Linked DNA regions of Homo sapiens. The protein of the gene in region 1 purifies or fractionates together with the protein of each later gene. This does not show direct contact. Each region holds a gene or a part of one and is shown on either strand. Other genes may lie near its edges.

Region 1 (4,893 bases):
GAGGCCGCCACCCGGAGCAGCCTGGGCCAGGCCCACAAGGCCCAGGCCATGGCACCACCAGGATGTCCTACCTCTAGTTTGCCCCTTGAAATTTGACGAGGTGTCCCTGAAGGCAAAGACAGGGACTTGTCACACCCCAGGACCTGGCATGGGAGGATGCAACAACAGGCCTTTGTGCCATGCCATGCATTGATTGAGCATGTATTAAGCACTTAGTGCAAGCCAGGCCTGCAAGCTGGAGCCAGGGTTGTTCTAGTAAGTTAAAGAGTGAAGGAACAAAGGAATGAATCAATTGGGGCTGCCTGTTCCAGGCCCACAGAGGCTGATAGCCCTCAAATCCAGTCCCAGTCCTGCCACTGGCCACCTGTGAGACCTTGGCCAAACCACAGAGCCTTGAACCTCAGTTTCCCCATCGATTAATTGGGCTAACAGCTGGGCCCTTCACAGAGTTGACAGATACCCCAGTCCAGAGCCTGGCATATAGTAGGTGTTCAATAAAGCTGCCCTTGGCCAGGTGCGGTGGCTCACACCTGTAATCCCAGCACTTTGGGAGGCCGAGGTGGGCGGATCACGAGGTCAGGAGATCGAGACCATCCTGGTTAACACGGTGAAACCCTGTCTGTACTAAAAAATACAGAAAAAAATAATAGCAGCCGGGCGTGGTGGCGGGCGCCTGTACTCCCAGCTACTCAGGAGGCTGTGGCAGGAGAATGGTGTGAACCCGGGGGGGTGGAGCTTGCAGTGAGCTGAGAGAACACCACTGCACTCCAGCCTGGGCGACAGAGCAAGACTCCATCTCAAAAAATAAAAAAAATAAAGCTACCCTTTGACCCCAGTTGTGCCCCTGGGAATCTCTGAGCTGGGCAAGGGTACCCCTCTTCCCTCCTCCTGGGGAGGCCAGCCCCAGCCTGCCTTCCAGCTGCCCTCATCTCTCCCCACCTCCCAGAGCCCCTTCTGTGGGCCTATGGGACCCACTTCTGCCTGTCTCGTCTCCAGAACCACGTCAATCTTGTGCATCGGAAAGGAAAGACCAAAGTGTGCCCTCATCCTGGCTGTGGCAAGAAGTTCTATTTATCCAACCACCTGCGGCGGCACATGATCATCCATTCAGGTCAGGCCCTGGGCCAGCTGGCAGCATGAGCGGGGGACACAGGGACATGGGCCTGGGAGCCTGGGCCAGAGCTGGCGGGTCAAAGCCCAGTGCTGGGTCTCCGGGCACAGGACTACACCCCTAGGAGCCTCCTCCCTGTCCTCAGTAAGCTGTAGCTATGTGAGCCACAGCGACAGGAACTATTACCAATCAATCACAGGAATTGGGTGGGGCTGGCCATCTTCCCTCCTATCCCCGCGACCCCATGCCCCATGATCCCAAGAGCAGGTCTCATGCGAGACTTAGGGAGCAGCTGACACCGCCACTGCTCTTCCAGATTGGAACCTATAGCAGCACCTGGGGCCACAGGCTAGACCAGTGCCCACCCAAGCAGCAGCAGGAAGGAGAGCTGGGCAAAGAGGAGCAGCTGGCTTGGGACTGGGCTTCTGTTTCCACTTGTGGCAGAGATGCAGGTCTTCTGCATGGGCTGGGGACATAGTGGAGAGCCATGGTGCCTGTGTCCAGCGATAGGGCATGCCCTGAGGGCCAGAGCTTCTGATATCACAGGAGGTCAGAAGTTTGGGGGTTTTTTTTGTTTTTTTTGGTTTTTTTTAATGTGTGTGTGGTTATTTTTTGCAACAGAGTCTCACTCTGTTGCCCGGGCTGGAATCCGATCTTGGCTCACTGCAGCCTCTGCCTCCCGGGTTCAAGCAATTCTTCTGCCCCAGCCTCCCAAGTATCTGGGATTACAGGCGCTCACCACCATGCCAGCTAATTTTTTTTTTTTAGTAGGGACAGGGTTTCGCCATGTTAGCCAGGCTTGTCTCCAACTCCTGATCTCAGGCGATCTGCCCACCTTGGCCTCCCTAAGTGCTGGGATTATAGGTGTGAGCCACCGTGCTGGGCAGAAGTTTTTTTTGTTTTTGTTTTTGTTTTCATTTTGCGAAATCACCCAAAGTTCAAATATCAGGGACAAGGCCGGGCGTGGTGGTAATCCCAGCCCTTTGGGAGGCTGAGGTGGGCAGATCACCTGAGGTCAGGAGTTCGAGACCAGCCTGACCAACATAGAGAAACCCCGTCTCTACTAAAAATACAAAATTAGCTGGGCATGGTTGGTGGCACATGCCTGTAATCCCAGCTACTCAGGAGGCTGAGGCAGAAGAATCGCTTGAACCCGCGAGACCAAGGTTGTGGTTGCGGTAAGCCGAGATCGGGCCATTGCACTCCAGCCTGGGCAACAAGAGCGAAACTCCGTCGCAAAATATATATATACACACACACAAGACAAATTCAGACCCATGTTGGCTTGGTAGTGTGCACCCTATGCCTCTCAGGGACCCAAGTTCGATCTCAGTTCTGCTTGATGGCGTCTGTGGGCAAATGCACGGGAAGGACGTAGGGTTTGGTCGGCCTGCACCTGCAGTCCTGGGAGATCCAAGGAGACAGCCTGATGCTCCTTCTAGCATCAGAGTCTGCAGCACATCAGAGACACCCCATAGCCCACCGTCCTCAGCCTCGGTCCCCACCGCCCCCAGGTGTCCGTGAATTCACCTGCGAGACCTGCGGCAAGTCCTTCAAGAGGAAGAACCACCTGGAGGTACATCGGCGCACCCACACCGGCGAGACCCCCCTGCAGTGAGTGACAGGCCGCCCCGTGCCGCTAGAGGATTGGGTGGGAGGGGATCCCAGCAGGTCCCAGGGGCGGCTTCGCCCCAACGCAGTGTCTGGGCCCGGTTCCACCTGCGCTCGGCCTTGTAGGGCCCCGCCCCGCCCCGCCCACTCTGACCCCGCCCCGTCCCGCCACGGGCTCCCGGCAGGTGCGAGATCTGTGGCTACCAGTGCCGGCAGCGCGCGTCGCTCAACTGGCACATGAAGAAGCACACTGCGGAGGTGCAGTACAACTTCACGTGCGATCGCTGCGGGAAGCGCTTCGAGAAGCTGGACAGCGTCAAGTTCCACACGCTCAAAAGCCACCCGGATCACAAGCCCACCTGACCCACCTGACCACTGACCGCCCCTATTTATTCGTCCGCTCGGACACCACGCCCGGGCTTGCCGGGGCCTGGACAGCTGCGAGGGCCGCCCGGACCGCGGGCCGGAAGGAGGCGCCCCCGCCCCGCCCCAGAGCTGGGCCCCCTGGGCAGGTTCCCCACCCCGCCCCACCGCATCCTTCTCGGAGCTGGTGCCTGGGGCTGCATTGCTGGAACTGTGTCAAGAGAGCAGAGTGAGATTAAAGAGCGAGAAAGGAGATGCCCTTCCCCTAGGCCTGAATGATTTGGGGTGCCAGGCCCCTCTCTGTCTCCAGCCTACTTGATCCCTTCCTAAGCGAGGCAGGGAACGAGGGATGCCCCTGGGCCCAGCAGCCTCGCACAGCCCCTGCTCCCACAGGATGGGGTGAGGCTTGGGGGTCTGGGGTCTCTGGGCATCTCCCGGAACTCAGGACCCTAATTTCCACTTCCTCCTGTTTTATGGGGCACCCATCTCCCACCCTCAGTGAGCTCCGGGATGAGATGGGGAGGTGTTCAGTAAACCCCTAAAATGAGAAACATTTGCAGCTAGCGACAAGCGCCATGCAAAAGAGAGAGTGATGCGTTGTTTTCCGGGGATGCTGTTTAGGTCGGTGGTCAGGGAGGGCCTCTGAGGAGGTGGCATTTGCGCATAGACCAGAATGACAAAGATCTATCCCAGAAGAAAGCTGGGGGAGGAAATTCTCAGGCCAGAGGAACAACCAGTGCCAAAACCCCGAGGTAGAACTAGCTCGGCGTGTTCCTAAAACAGGAAGCCGCGGGGGGAAGGGGAGTTGGCGGCGGCTGCCCTGGCCCCATTTCCCGGAGGAGGATGCTGAGGCCGCCGCCTCCTGCGGGCCGCTAGAGAGAGGGGCGGGGAGCGAGGCGCGGCCGCTAGGTGGCGTGCGAGGCGCGTAGGCCCTGGTGGCCGCAGCCACGTGACCCTGGGGACCGCAGCCGCGAGCTCAGGCACGTGCCCGGGGGAGCCCTGTGGCGCCACGCGCAGATTGGCCCCGCCGGTTCCTCACCAGTTCGGGGGATGAGGCGGGGCCCCAGCTATGCCTCAGTTCCTGCTGCGGACCGGGGGGCTACCCCAGCCGGGGACAGAAGAATCGGCAAGGATGAGCGAGTCCGGCCGCTGGGGCCGCCCCCGCGAGCTCCCTCCCCCCGCGAGGCAGGTCCCCTCCACTCTCCCCGCACTGCCGGAGCCGGCAGGTTTCCATGGGAACCGCAGCGGGGTCCGCGCGCCCAGGAGCAGCCCCCCTCCTAGCTCAGTTTCCGATGACGGAAACCGGGAGGAACACGGGGTGGGGAACAGACCATCGCTTGGGGCCCCTAGCGCCCGCAGCCAGGTCGCCCCGGCGAGCCCAAGAGGGGCCACCCGGGGATCTGCACCGCCACCGCCCCTATTGCGCGGGCCACTGCGATTGGCCTGCCCTTTCCAGGCGTGGCAGCATCCCCTGGTGCGCGCACTCCCATTGGCTCGATCTCTAGGGCATCTTCCAGTAACTGGTTATCTCAAGGGCCGCCCCTGATTGGGCAAATTAGGCTCTCCTCGCTGGTGGCGCTCTCTGACAGTCTGGAGCCTAAAGGGCGTGCAGGAACGAGGATTGGGTGGGGACTGCCGCTCTCCAGTTAGGGGGTCTGGGCTACCTCGCCGGCAGCGCCCTCGACCGGACTGTCGGATTGCTGTCTGTGGTGCTGAAGCCTCACGCCCTGGCGACCCCGCCCCAGTGTGTGCTAGTTCCCGCGCCCCGACGTAAACATGCACCGGCGCCCGCGCACCAAAGGAGGCTG
Region 2 (4,468 bases), on another chromosome or scaffold:
TTTCAATAGCGTTAGACTTTGTTGTGATGCACAGTTTAGTTGCAATCAGTTGAATCCTTTTGAAGTTTGCTTTTAAGTAATGTTAGGAATGGGCCAGAGCAGTCTTTATTCTGTTATTAATTTAGTTCCAATACTAAGGTATGGCCCTTCTGTGGGCCAGTACCATATATATTACAGGTTCTATCTGTTCTGGCTGAAGATAACACGAAATATTCCCAGCCATGAGTGAGCTCTAGGAATTGTTTGGTCTACTTGTTTTCCTTTGGATCTTTCCCTAGCCTTGGGTTATTTATCTTTTTTCTCACTCATGTTCAGGTCAGCACTTAGCCAAAAACTTGTGGGAACCCCTCTGTGTTTCCTTTGGAGCTCTCTTTATGTGCAGCTCCTTTCTGTCTAAGATAGTACATTGCCATGCACAGTAGCCACTTCGGTCTCTGAACTCCAGTGTCTTTCTGCACAACTTAATGAGACCACTGGACTCTGTTTTTCTTTGTCCTCTGAAAACTGCCTCCAGGCAGTAAGCTGGAGAAGTATTTGTTTTGTTTTCTGATTTTGAAAGTTTATTAAAACAATTTCTGAAAGTATATTTGAGGTATAAACCAAAGTTGGTACTCCAGGAGCCTTTGTTGATAAGGGATTTTGAATGCTCTGAAAATGAGTACTTGTTTTTGGCTAACTTTATTTTGGTTGAGTCTTGTGTAGGTTTCAGACATGATAGAGCTATTTGCATTTGTTGAATATATGATAAAATATTTTGGCTTATATGTTTATGAAGATGTTATTTAATGGAGCCTCTTGGTTTTGAAAGGTCAGGTTACCTTTCAAGAACTTATGTTTTCTTTTATAGGGCTCAAAATCTCCTTCGCCAAGACCAAACATGCCTGTTCGATACTTCATAATGAAGAGTAGCAATTTGAGAAACCTTGAAATTTCTCAACAGAAGGGTATCTGGTCTACAACTCCTAGTAATGAACGGAAGCTAAATCGAGCCTTTTGGGAAAGCAGCATAGTTTACTTGGTATTTTCTGTTCAAGGATCTGGACATTTCCAGGTGAGCCACCCTGAATCAGTAAAATGGGGTTGTTCTGGCTATAGGTTAAATCATAGAGATTTTTAGAAAAACAACTGGCTTTTCATTGCATCAGAATGCAAGAATGCCTTTTGCTTGACTGAGAATAAGGGATATATTGCATCTCTTTAGAGGATGATAGAACTGGAATCCTCTTTGTTTTTGCCTTGTCTTACCAGAGTCTTTCCAGGTAAACTATGTTTCCTTCTGAAGACAACTTTAGATTTACTAATTCTCAAGTGGATTCAAAGTAATGAGAAGCTTGACCTTTTGGTAAAATATTTATTTAAATAGGCCAAGGAAGTTAGTATTGACAATCAGTAAACTAAGTATGTTTCTTAACCCATCACCCATCTTGACTTAATGTATACCTGAATTTATAAAATAATACATTTATTATTTGATGTTTATTATAATTTTTGGAAATGAAAGCTTAGAGGTTAGCTTGTATCCATTTATCATGGAATAAAAATATGGACTTTGCTATTTTATTTAGAAATCATTATTGATATTTGAAATTGTTAGGAGGCTAGAACTGTTTTTTTCTAAAATTTGCTAAGAGAGCTTTTAATGAAAAATTTAGTAGCTTATTTTTTGTTTTTGTTAGGTATCTGTTATTTCAATATTATATCTTAATCTTAAAATTTTAAAAACTCAGCCTTCTCAGATAAATTAAATTTAGACATGCTAATCTCCTCCTCACCTCTATTCCTTCCTCCCATTTTACCTACAGGGATTTTCTAGGATGTCTTCTGAGATTGGAAGGGAAAAGAGTCAGGACTGGGGCTCTGCTGGACTAGGAGGAGTATTTAAGGTGGAGTGGATACGAAAAGAAAGCCTTCCCTTTCAATTTGCACACCATTTACTCAATCCATGGAATGACAACAAGAAAGTGCAGATAAGCAGGGATGGGCAGGTATACAATGGCATTTTTTTTTTTATTTACTTTTGTTTCTGTTTGTTTTCTGTTATCCAGTGCTTTAATTGAGGAGAAAATGTAAGAGTACAAATTTTATATTCCATATGCACATGGGAAACAGGGGTTCAGGTTTGTAAAAAGATAGTAAAAACCTACTTGTAAATGTGTCTGATTGCTCCTTGCAGTCAGAGTCTCAAGATGACAATAGTATTTAACTTCTCTTTGGCTTTAATTATGTAAAGTAAATAACCTTTTTATATTCTAGTGGCTTGTTTATTTCTATTGTGTTTTGCTTTGTCTTCATGATGCTATTTACATGCATTTTAAGCTAGTTAAGATGATGGAAATTAATGTATATTGACCAAATACTATGCTAGCTGCTTTAGAAGATATAATTTATTTCTTATGATTAAATTATTAGTCCAATTTTATATAGGAGAAAATAGACTCAAAGATTAGTTTTGCCTAAGGTCACACAGCTAATAATTTATCTGAACCAGTATGACTCGTTTCAAATCACCATGTAAAAAGTGTTTGGGTTCTTCTTAAGTGCTTATCATAGGTTATCATTCCACAGGAGTACTATGAAGTGGGATTCTTTTCAATTGTGTGAGAATAATTTCATTTTTATTCTATAATAATGATTTTGAAGAAATATGTTAGCTAGAAATCTTAGAAGAAAAAATATTTTAATAATTTTCAAGATAAGAAGATATAGTTGCTTAAGAGAGTTCCTTGGAAAAAAACCCAACATCGAATATGCTAGGTTTCACAGTAAACCTTTGGAAGTTCCAGCTGAGTGCTTTTGCTGAATCTCTATGAAAAACAAAATCCATTATTTTTAGGTAGAAACAGTTCCAGGACTCCATGGGAATCTGTTGCCATTTTGTCACAAAAGTTGAGAGATTTTGCAGATTAACTGTAATCTTAAATCTGGAAGTCAACTCCATAAACCTTAAAGCAAAGAATTAGAACAATTCATACCAGATGATTTTAGCATACGCTGGTAGGAAAATGAAATTTAAAGTGATTTTCTTACATTTTTATCAGTGTAGGTTTTGGTCATTAAAAATTTTCACTCCAGTTCTTTTTATGTTTATTTTGACTTCTGATTTATCTAGGAACTAGAACCTCTGGTTGGTGAACAGTTGCTCCAGTTATGGGAACGTCTTCCCTTGGGAGAAAAAAACACAACTGATTGACACTCAGGTTATACCATCTTGACTTTGAGTATTGGCAGTATTTGTGATCATTAGGAACCTTTCAGATTATTTATCTTTTTTTTTCCCCTTTCTTCTAGAACTCTTAGCTGTGGAAGAACATCATGCCTATTTATAACCACTGAATGCACTGACTTTCAAAAACTGAGGTGGGGTGTGTGTTACGAATGGGCTTTTTAACACTTTTAGAGTGTTGCTTTAGAACTACCATCTTCATATACAGGAGAAAGGAAGCATTTAAATTTTTATAGTGATTATAGAGAATGATTATATGATGTTTGTAATGAATAAAATAGTAGTTTCATTATTTGGCACAATAGCAGTTTATTTTAAACAAACAATTTGAAGTTAAACATTTCATTTTTAAAAACACTGAATTACAGTTCTTATTGATGACTTTTTAATGCAGAGTAAGTTGTTTAAGAAAGGCCTGAATATATCAGAACATCTGAGCACCATTTTAGAAGAGTCAACTCTTAAGATTATCATTAGAAAACAAATACGTCAACACCTATGAAAAGAAGCGGGGAAAACAACAACAAGGACAACAACAAAAAACCAGTGAAATTCTACAAGTGTCCCTTTTAAAAATAGTGTGTGCTAACTAAGGGCTATTCATTCTGCCATTTTTAACTTGAGACACATTTAAGAATAAAGTTGGATGTTCTTTTTCTGTGATTATGAAATGCAATAAAATCTGAATAAAGGGCAAAGTTTCTTCCTGATCAGATTAGATTAAGTGCTTAGTTTTATTCCTAATTCTGCCCCTTTTAACCTGATGTGTACCTTACTCTTTCCTCCCTCTCTTCCTCCCTTCCTCCTCTCCCCGCTCCTTTCCTGCATTTCTCCCTCCCTCCTTCCCTCGTCACATCTCTTATATGAGCACAGTAATTATGACCTTTTTGTTTTGGCTACAACTTGATTGAAACAAGTTCAAAATTTAAACAAGTTCATACAAGTTTTTAAAAATTCTCAACTGGTAGCTTGCTTGCTGTGCGTCTTCCAAACTAAAGCCTGCAAGCGCCACAATTCTAAGTGCCGCCTTCCATTTTTTTTCAGTATGTTTTCACTGGCTTATGTTTTCAGATATGATTTTCCTTTTTCGCATATATGGTTTAATAAATGGGGGATAATTTTTTTTTTGTAAATCCGTGCTTGTGCCAAGTCTCATATTTCTTTGCCATCTCAGAATTATCTTTTTACCACCACTGTTTATAAAATTTCCTTAGAGACTTTTTGAAGGGAAAATAGAGCAACAGG
Region 3 (4,468 bases), 9.8 Mb from region 1:
CTGCAAATGCTGTTAATTCATTTTTTATGGCTGTGTAGTATTCCATTGTATATATATACCACAGTTTCTTTATCCATTCATTGATTGATGAGGATTTGGGTTGGTTCCATGATTTTGCTATTGTGAAATGTGCCACTATGAACATGCGTGTGCAAGTATATTTTTCGAATAATGACTTCTTTTCCTCTGGGTAGATACCCAATTGTGGGATTGCTGGATCAAATGGTAATCCTACTTTTAGTTCTTTAAGGAATCTCCACAGTGTTTTCCATAGTGGCTTTTCTAGTTTACATTCCCACCAGCAATGTAGAAGTGTTCCCTGTTCACCACGTCCATGCCAACATCTACTGTTTCTTGATTTTTTGATCATGGCCATTCTTGCAGGAGTAAGGTGGTATCGCATTGTGGTTTTGATTTGCATTTCCCTGATCATTAGTGATGTTGAGGATTTTTTCATATGTTTGTTGGCCATTTGTATACCTTCTTTTGAGAATTGTTTATTCATATCCTTAGTCCACTTTTTGATGGGATTGTTTGTTTTGTACTGATTTGTTTGGGTTTGTTGTAGACTCTAGATATTAGTCCTTTGTCAGACGTATAGATTGTGAAGATTTTTTCTCACTCTATGTGTTGTCTGTTTACTCTGCTGACTGTTCTTTTTGCCGTGTAAAAACTATTTAATTTAATTAGGTCCCTGATATTTATCTTTGTTTTTATTGCATTTGCTTTTGAGTTCTTGGTCATGAAATCCTTGCCTAATCTAATGTCTAGAAGGGTTTTTCCAATGTTATGTTTTATAATTTTTATAGTTTCCGATCTTAGGTTTAAGTCCTTAATCCATCTTGAGTTGATTTTTGTATAAGATGAGAGATGAGGATCCAGTTTCATTCTCCTACATATGGCTAGCCAATTATCCCAGTACCATTTGTAGAAAAGGGTGTCCTTTCCCCACTTTATGTTTTTGTTTGCTTTGCTGAAGATCAGTTGGCTGTAAGTATTTGGGTTTATTTCTGGGTTCTCTATTCTGTTCCATTGGTCTATGTGCCTATTTTTAAACCAGTAACATGCTGTTTTGGTGACTATGGCCTTATAGTGTAGTTTGAAATCAGGTAATGTTATGCCTCCAGATTTGTTCTTTTTGCTTAGCCTTGTTTTGGCTACGCAGGCTCTTTTTTGTTCCACATGAATTTTAGAATTTTTTTTAATTCTGTGAAGAATTATGGTGGTATTTTGATAAGGATTGCACTGAATTTGTAGATTGCTTTTGGCAGTATGGTCATTTTCACAATATTGATTCTACTTATCCATGAGCGTGGGATTTGTTTCCATTTGTTTGTGCCATCTATGATTTCTTTCATCAGTGTCAGGTGTATTTTTTATGGCTTGGTAATTTCCAATAAAATTTCAAGGCTGTTTAAGAATGCTACCAAGAAAAAGAATAGGGGAAATGTCTTTCCCATTTTGGCTGTAGAAAATGAGTACATTTTCACAAGAAAATGTGGTAGATAATTGCTGAGTTACATAGATTCATGAAAGCATCAGCTCCTCTTTTTGCAGGGTAAATTTGTGACAGTGAATATCTCTGTTCAAATCCTGTTATCTTGATTTCCTAGTTTTAAGCTAAATTTTATTTGAAACTTGGTACCTCCTAGACATGTTTCCATATGACTAATTGTTTACTATATGACTTTTAATGGAAATAATAAAATAATGCATTTATTGTTTGAAAGGAATGGACACTTTTGCTTTTCTTATTGAGATATGAAATATAAGCACCCTAAAATTTTCTTCTCTTATGTCAACACTGTGTTTGAGAAACTGCTGGATTTTTTTTTTATTTTTTGAAATGGAATTTCTCTCTTATTGCCCAGGCTGGAGTGCAATGTCATGATCTCGGCTTACTGCAGCTTCCGCCTCCTGGGTTCAAACTATTCTCCTGCCTCAGTCTCTTGAGTAGCTGGGATTACAGGCATGCACCACCACACCTGGTTAATTTTGTATTTTTAGTAGAGACGGGGTTTCTGCATGTTGGTCAGGCTGGTCTCAAACTCCTGACCTCAGGTGATCTGCCCGCCTCGGCCTCCCAAAGTGCTGGGATTACAGGCGTAAGCCACTGCGCCCAGCCAAGAAACGCTGGATTTTTTAAACACTTAAGTTTATTTTTTTTTGAGACGGAGTCTTGCTCTGTAGCCAGGCTGGAGTGCAGTGGCGCGATCTCAGCTCACTGCAAGGTCCACCTCCCGGGTTCACACCATTCTCCTGCCTCAGCCTACCCAGTAGCAGGGACTACAAGTGCCCGCCACCACGCCCGACTAATTTTTTTTTTTGTATTTTTAGTAGAGACAACGTTTCACCATGTTAGCCAGGATGGTCTTGATCTCCTGACCTTGTGATCCACCCGCCTCAGCCTCCCAAAGTGTTGGGATTACAGGCGTGAGCCACTGCGCCCGGCTAAACACTTAAGTTTCAAAGACCAAGTGAATAACTCTTGACATGGAAATTAAAGCTTTAGCCCACTGGCTCAGAGCTAAGGCTAATATTGAGCCTGCAAAAAAATTTTATTAAAGGCCCAGTTAGTTTTTTCTGGGGAGTCTCCTCTGTAGATATCCCAGCCTGCTCACCCCAGCCATAGAAGTCTTTATCCTGGGAGAAGCTACAGAGCCCTGGAAAGCTGGGGACCCACAGGTGGATGCAGTTGATGTTAAAATGAAAGGGGATTGGGAGGGTCTTACTGAAGATGAAGTTGTTCTTGTTTTGAGGCAGTTTATAGACTTTGAAAATAAAACAAGGTTGAATTTACATAAAAATTTTGACTTCCAAAGAAATATTGCAACAGAAGTACCAACTACAAGGTCTTTAAGAATTGCAAAGTTCAGGCAGACAAAGGCTTCCTTTCCTAAGGAGGAACAAACAAGATTAGAAAGGAGGTGGAAGGGGAATGGCAAATGCAGGGTGAAAAAATCAGATTTTAGATCAGAGAATGTTTCACACTGAAGTCAGCCTGTTCTTTGGAGTTACATAAAATGGGTTTGTAAAGTTCAGAAGCCTTGGGGAAAAAGACAAACTTAAGTAAAGTTTCCTTAAGAAGTATTTTATTTTCACCACTGAAGTCAAATTCAACTGATTTTTCAATAAGAAAAAAAATGTGCAGAGTCGGTGTCTGCTATGTGATAGATAAGAAAAGAGAGCACCATCTAAGTCATAATGGGAAGGGTGTTTCTTTCGATAAACTGTTCCTGGAGAACACAAACAATGAAGAATTTTATTAATCACAGTTATTTATCTGGATTGTCTATGTGTGTCATCTTTCCCCACCTTTCTTTGTTCTATACATGTCTGCCATTTGACTTTTCCTGGGTTGTATCTTTTATAATAAACTGGTAAATATAACTACAGTATTTGCTGAGTTCTATGAGTAGCTTTATCAAATTATTGAACTTGAAAAAGGTTATGGGAGTCCTCAATTTTTAAACAGTAGCTCAGAAATGTAAATGGGCCCATGGAGTTTGTGCCTGGCATCTGCCGTAAGGACAGTGTGGGACTGAGTCAGGGCCTGTGCTGACACTGGGTGGTGTCAGAAATAAAATGTTAGACAATGAGTTAGTGTTAGAGAATTGCTTGGTTTTCAGTAAACTGCAGATTTGGTGCCAGAAAAAAGATACGGGGGCCTGACCTGGAATAAAACTCTGGATGTCTGGGAATGGGACGCTCTGCTCTCCTGTACACAGGCTGTCACACTGCCCATTGTCCTGTGATTTCAGTTCTCCCAGGGTGAGAGAGGACTGAAAAATTAGAGAATAGGAGCTCTGGCCGGGTGCCGTGGCTCACGCCTGTAATCCTAGCACTTTGGGAGGCCGAGGCGGGTGGATTGCCTGAGCTCAGGAGTTCAAGACCAGCCTGGGCAACGTGGCAAAACCCCGTCCCTACTACAGATAGAAAAAATAAGCTGGGCATGGTGGTGCGTTCTTGTAATCTCAGCTATTCAGGAGGCTGAGGAAGGAGAATCACTTGAACCCGGGAGGCAGAGGTTGCAATGAGCCAAGATTGCGCCACTGCACTCCAGCCTGGGTGACAGAACTAGACTCTGTCTCAAAAGAAAAAAAAAAGGAAAGAAAGAAAAAAAAAGAATATGAGCTCTGATGACAGACCCCCTTTTCCCACAGCTGCCACCACAGGATTCCCAGCCACTCACAAACATACCCATTAGACATTGACGTGTCCACACTTATTCCCAGGACTAGGCACCACCCTCAGGAATTTTACCACAGCATTTTTGATCCTGGTGTTTCTTGCTACAAACTCACAAACATGTCTACAAGTCTCCTGGCATATCCGCACCCCCAGACACTGAATCTGCACCAGCAACCTGTTTTCTCCACCAACCTAGGGTTCTGGACCACCTGTTCATAATCTCACCTGCCTGTATGAACAGAGAAATAAATTAGAGTACAGCCCCACCCAGGCACAA
Region 4 (4,468 bases), on another chromosome or scaffold:
GCCAGAAGGAGGTAGAGGGTGGGCTAGAGATGGGAACTCTAGGGAGGAGGCACATATACAAGTTCAGGCAGGCAGGAAGAGTACCTGGGGCTCTGCCAGAGGGAATGGAGAGGAAGGAGATGAACTGATCAAATATGGAGGCAGTCAAATAGGACATGGGAGGGGATTTAATGTGGGGAGACAGAGACAACAAAGAGTTAGAGGACTGAAGCCTTCCTTTCCCTCACTTTGGTCCTCAAAGCCCAGTCCCTAGAGTACGCAGCTCAAGGGCATGGAGGTTGGTGTGATGTTGAAGGCTGATGAAGATGAGAGTTTCTAATGAAGCAAGGCCCTAGGGATGGCAACTTCAGGGACACTGAGCTCTAATCACTAACCAGGCACTTGTCCAGTCCTGGTGGGTAGGATAAGAGGGTATGGAAGTACATTTACCTCCCTGCAGGATCTTGGAAGGAAAATGATTGGGACCAGAGTAATCAGTGGAGAAAAAGAACTAGACAAACTGTAATCAGGGAGTCTTGCTGCTACAGGAGGTCATAGGAGGAAGAGTCAAAGCATGTGGTGTTGGTTGGAAGTAGTTAAGGAGGGCTTCCTGCCCAATATGGTCTAAGGATGGAGAAACTTTGTGGGTAGAGAAACAGGAAGGGGAGGTGGCCTGAGGGCAGTTGGTGCCAGATTTGATGTTGAAGCCCTTGCCAAAGCCCTTGCTTACTTTTCCCTTCCCCCACAGGAAAGCGTCCCAAAAAGGGCCTGGCCACAGCAAAGCAGAGACTCGGCCGTATCCTGAAAATCCACAGAAATGGCAAACTACTTCTGTGAGCCCTCCTGTGTCCCACCCCTCACCCCTTTACCCCCATTGCCTTCTCCATTGTCAACTCTTGGGGCACTCCTGGATCCTATCTGCCCTGGACAAGGTGCTGAGGTGCATTGTCCTGCTTTCTTGGGACTTACCAAAGGCACGGACCCCTCCACCGACTCCTTCTAGTTCCCTTCCCCACTTTCACTAGAGCATCCTGCCTGCCTTCTCCACTGAGGAGCAGGTAAATGGGAGAGGTTTCCAGCTGACTAGAACCCTCTTTTCTACTCGTCCAAACCACTCCCGTCACCTGCCTTGTCTGTTCTTTATTCTTCATCCCCCGCTAGAGCTGGAAGGCAGGATGAGGAGAGGTATGAAGGAGCCTGAGCCATGAAGTGGGAAGCCCAGTGCTTGACACTTTCTGCAACTCTAGCCCTATATCCAGAAGCCTGCCCACCTCCACCCATTCTGTTTGCCCCATTTCCCCAGTCCAGTGGACATGCCCCACCTCCAGACTTGCTCATGGGAGAAGGCTGTGGTCTCTGCCCCCTCTTGCCAAATGCTTCATGGAAATGAAGAGGAAGGCCTAGAGCCTCCTTCCTGCCCCACTGTGGGCCATTTCCAGAAGTGGCCTAGAAATGCCAACTTCACTTACCTTTCAAAAGAAAGGTGATTCCTATCACTTGTCAAGGTAGGGAGAGGTCAGATGCCCAAGCCTTTGACCACGGTTTTGTAGCCTGTTGGAGGAAGCTACTTTTAGCTGGCTACACATGAGGCCACTTGTTTTAGGGTGAGCTCCAGGGATTTGCCTGGATTTTGAAATCATGTAGAACATTATCCACGTGGCTGTGGCTGTGGCTGTGGCTGGGCCCTGGCAGGTGGAAAACCATCTCCCAGAAACCTGAAAGCACCTGCCAATGACGCAGATAACCCTGGCCCTACAGCCTGCTTGCTCCGCCTATACCACAGAGCACAGCCTGGACATTATGGAGGGTGTGGCGGGACGGCCCACACCTGGGTCCTCCATCGGGAACTTTTCATGCTTCTTTCTCCACCTGAGGTCTTGGTCTGAAGAAGACCTCAGGACTCACATCTTCACTCCTGGGCCTTTGCACTTCCAGACGACAGGTCATCGTTCAAGCAGAATGCAGACAGGCCATTCACGAGCCCAAGTTGAAGAGAAGAGACGCCCATCCGTGAAGGAGCAGACCATCCATCCGATCCTCCCCTTCCCCTGTCCTTCCTTCGTGGATTGTCTCCATTGTCCAGACAGTGCCCCCACCTCCCACCGCCTTGCCTCACTGGCAATCTGGACTCGATGGAGAACATCCCCCCACCTCCATTTGGCACTACCCAAGTGGAGTGTACCCTTGCCCTTTCCACCTGTACCACCCACTCCAACCTCACCCCAGCTTGCCCAATGCTTCTGGGGAATTTAATAGCTACCATGCAGGCCACAGGGAATTTGTGAGGCTTCTTTTGTCATCTTTGTATCTCCAGTTTGTCTTTCTTTTCTCCATAGCCCTGCCTCTACTTTCCTTCCTTGGAATCAGGGGTTCCTTTAGCCCATTTGCTTTCTCTACCTTGGGGACCCCAGGGGCCAAGCAGTTCTCCATCTAGTCACACCAAAGGCAAAAAGCCTGGCTACCTCCCCCCTAGCACGTGAGTCCCTACTCCCCTCCCCTCTGTTTCTGCCCAGCTTTGCTTATTTTGGGGATTTCAAGGCAGCAGAGGGTAGTGAGGGGAGAGCAGGAGAAGCCTCTGTCCTGTATAGGCAACTGCCTGACTATGCGGTGACTGCTGTAACCAAGATCAGGTCCCCAGCCCTTTTGTCCATTAACACCCCTTCTTGATCTTTCAAAGGCAGCTAATTGCTAGCAAATCCCCCCGATTCCGGCCTTTTCCCTCTATTTCTTTGTTAGAAGTTTTCTGTGGAGCTGAAACCCAGCCTCTGTTTGACTGGGTTTCATTTAGCTTAGTTGGGTTCTTAGAGCCCCCTGTTTGTTGTTTTGTGTTGTTTCCAATGAAAAGCAAGTTTACCCTCAGAGTTATGCTTTTCCAAAGAGGCTGATGTCTTTGTTTTTGTTTTTTTTAATGTTTCAGGTTCTAAGTGAAGTGAGTTGGGGAGGGGTTGGGAGTGTTAGTAATCAAGGTTTAGAACACCATGAGATAGTTACCCCTGATCTCCAGTCCCTAGCTGGGGGCTGGACAGGGGGAAGGGAGAGAGGATTTCTATTCACCTTTAATATATTTTTACAAAAAAAGCAAACAATTTAAAAACAAGCCCACCGCTTCTGTACATGTCTAAATATATTTTTAGAAGTGGGTAGGATTGTGAATTTCTGATGCAGGGCCTTTTTATAAATAGGTTAGGGTAGCATCATTCAGACTTCTCTGTTGTTTTTGTCCCTGTCTTTTTCTTATGTTGTGTTACTAATGTAATTTATATTTTTTTTAGATCCTCCCTTTCCTATAGAGATAAAAGTGATTTATCTTGGCAATTGCTTTGCTTGGCATTCTTTTTTTTTGTGATGAGGGTGGTGGTGTGGTGCAGGGTCTGGGAGTGCTGCCTTCTCCTTGTACTCTTTGTCTCTCCCTCAGCAAGTTGTCAGGCATTTCCCTGGTGCTCAGCCTTATGCTTGAAGTGGGAAGGGTATTCCCACCCTCAGGAGGGACACGCTTCACACACCTGAAGTAGATCATCAGAAGCAGACTGAGCAGAAAAGAAAGGGTGCAATAATTCAAAGGGGCCTAACAAGTTCAATGGGAGGGCTTTCCAGAGACTGCTTTTTCAAGTGTGTCCTCTTTCTGTGAATGTGGGATTTTTTTTTTCTTTCCCTCTCTCTTCCATGCACTTGTTGTGCAATCTGGACTTGATTACTGTGCTTAGGGCCAGTACATGGGTTAGAAGAATATAATTATCAGAGCTTGTTTTCACGATTATCGCACTTGTTTTCTTGTGCCAGGCACTGCTCTTAATACTTTATTGATTCATTTCATCCTCACCAACACCCTCATCCTGCCAGCGAAGAAACAAAGTAACCTTCCTGTATCATACATGAAAATTCTGGGACCAACCTGGTTCCAGAATGTGTATTCTTACCACTCTGTTCTACCACTTCTCACTGATAAACACTACCATTATATTAAGTGCCTTTTGGGTGCCAGGCATTGGGCTAGGGATTTTACTTAGGGATATCTCATTTAATCCTCACTGAAAAACCCCATGAGGATATTCGTCCTATTTAACAGTTTAAGGAGACTGAAGTTTGCCAGTGGTCTGCAGCAGGATCTGCCTGATTCCAAAACTTATGTTCTTTGCCTTCACCATATTAGAAAATCTTCTGAGGCTCAAGCACCCAACAGATCTTTATTAAGCCTCTGTTATGTGCAAGATGCAGAATTGAGAGTTATCTCCTAAGGAGAGCTCCCAGGGTGATCTTGGGAGCCTCAGTTTCAAATTCACCACCACCCTGACTCTGTGGGTGAGCCAGGGCAGGCTGCTTACTGTCTGTGGGTCATCTATTAAAGTATTTTGAACCCAGTCAAGATTTACTTCCTCCTGGAGATTCTGCTTCTGTGGGTCTGGAGTGAGGCTGTCTGGTTTTGGCACCTACTGGTTAAATGACCTCCTCCAGTTCTCACAGTCTGTCTCAGGAGTAGGTGGGGTTTTGA

The links.
Region 2: the proteins of ZNF653 (region 1) and YTHDC2 purify together in Homo sapiens (affinity purification with mass spectrometry; one large-scale study listed by BioGRID and IntAct). This does not show direct contact.
Region 3: the proteins of ZNF653 (region 1) and ZNF708 purify together in Homo sapiens (affinity purification with mass spectrometry; one large-scale study listed by BioGRID and IntAct). This does not show direct contact.
Region 4: the proteins of ZNF653 (region 1) and PHF8 purify together in Homo sapiens (affinity purification with mass spectrometry; one large-scale study listed by BioGRID and IntAct). This does not show direct contact.

The regions. Positions count from the first base shown.
Region 1 is NC_000019.10:11,481,874-11,486,766, reverse strand, and holds the end of ZNF653 (zinc finger protein 653), read left to right. Parts: intron 1-996; coding exon 997-1,111; intron 1,112-2,625; coding exon 2,626-2,725; intron 2,726-2,907; coding exon 2,908-3,085; 3' UTR 3,086-3,338; downstream 3,339-4,893. UniProt on the Homo sapiens protein: Transcriptional repressor. May repress NR5A1, PPARG, NR1H3, NR4A2, ESR1 and NR3C1 transcriptional activity.
Region 2 is NC_000005.10:113,590,194-113,594,661, forward strand, and holds part of YTHDC2 (3'-5' RNA helicase YTHDC2), read left to right. Parts: intron 1-847; coding exon 848-1,051; intron 1,052-1,802; coding exon 1,803-1,985; intron 1,986-3,109; coding exon 3,110-3,190; 3' UTR 3,191-3,197; exon of another isoform or gene 3,198-3,288; coding exon of another isoform or gene 3,289-3,297; 3' UTR 3,298-3,617; coding exon of another isoform or gene 3,618-3,725; 3' UTR 3,726-4,468. UniProt on the Homo sapiens protein: 3'-5' RNA helicase that plays a key role in the male and female germline by promoting transition from mitotic to meiotic divisions in stem cells.
Region 3 is NC_000019.10:21,321,943-21,326,410, reverse strand, and holds part of ZNF708 (zinc finger protein 708), read left to right. Parts: intron 1-4,468. UniProt on the Homo sapiens protein: May be involved in transcriptional regulation.
Region 4 is NC_000023.11:53,935,506-53,939,973, reverse strand, and holds the end of PHF8 (histone lysine demethylase PHF8), read left to right. Parts: intron 1-727; coding exon 728-816; 3' UTR 817-1,914; coding exon of another isoform or gene 1,915-1,993; 3' UTR 1,994-3,294; downstream 3,295-4,468. UniProt on the Homo sapiens protein: Histone lysine demethylase with selectivity for the di- and monomethyl states that plays a key role cell cycle progression, rDNA transcription and brain development.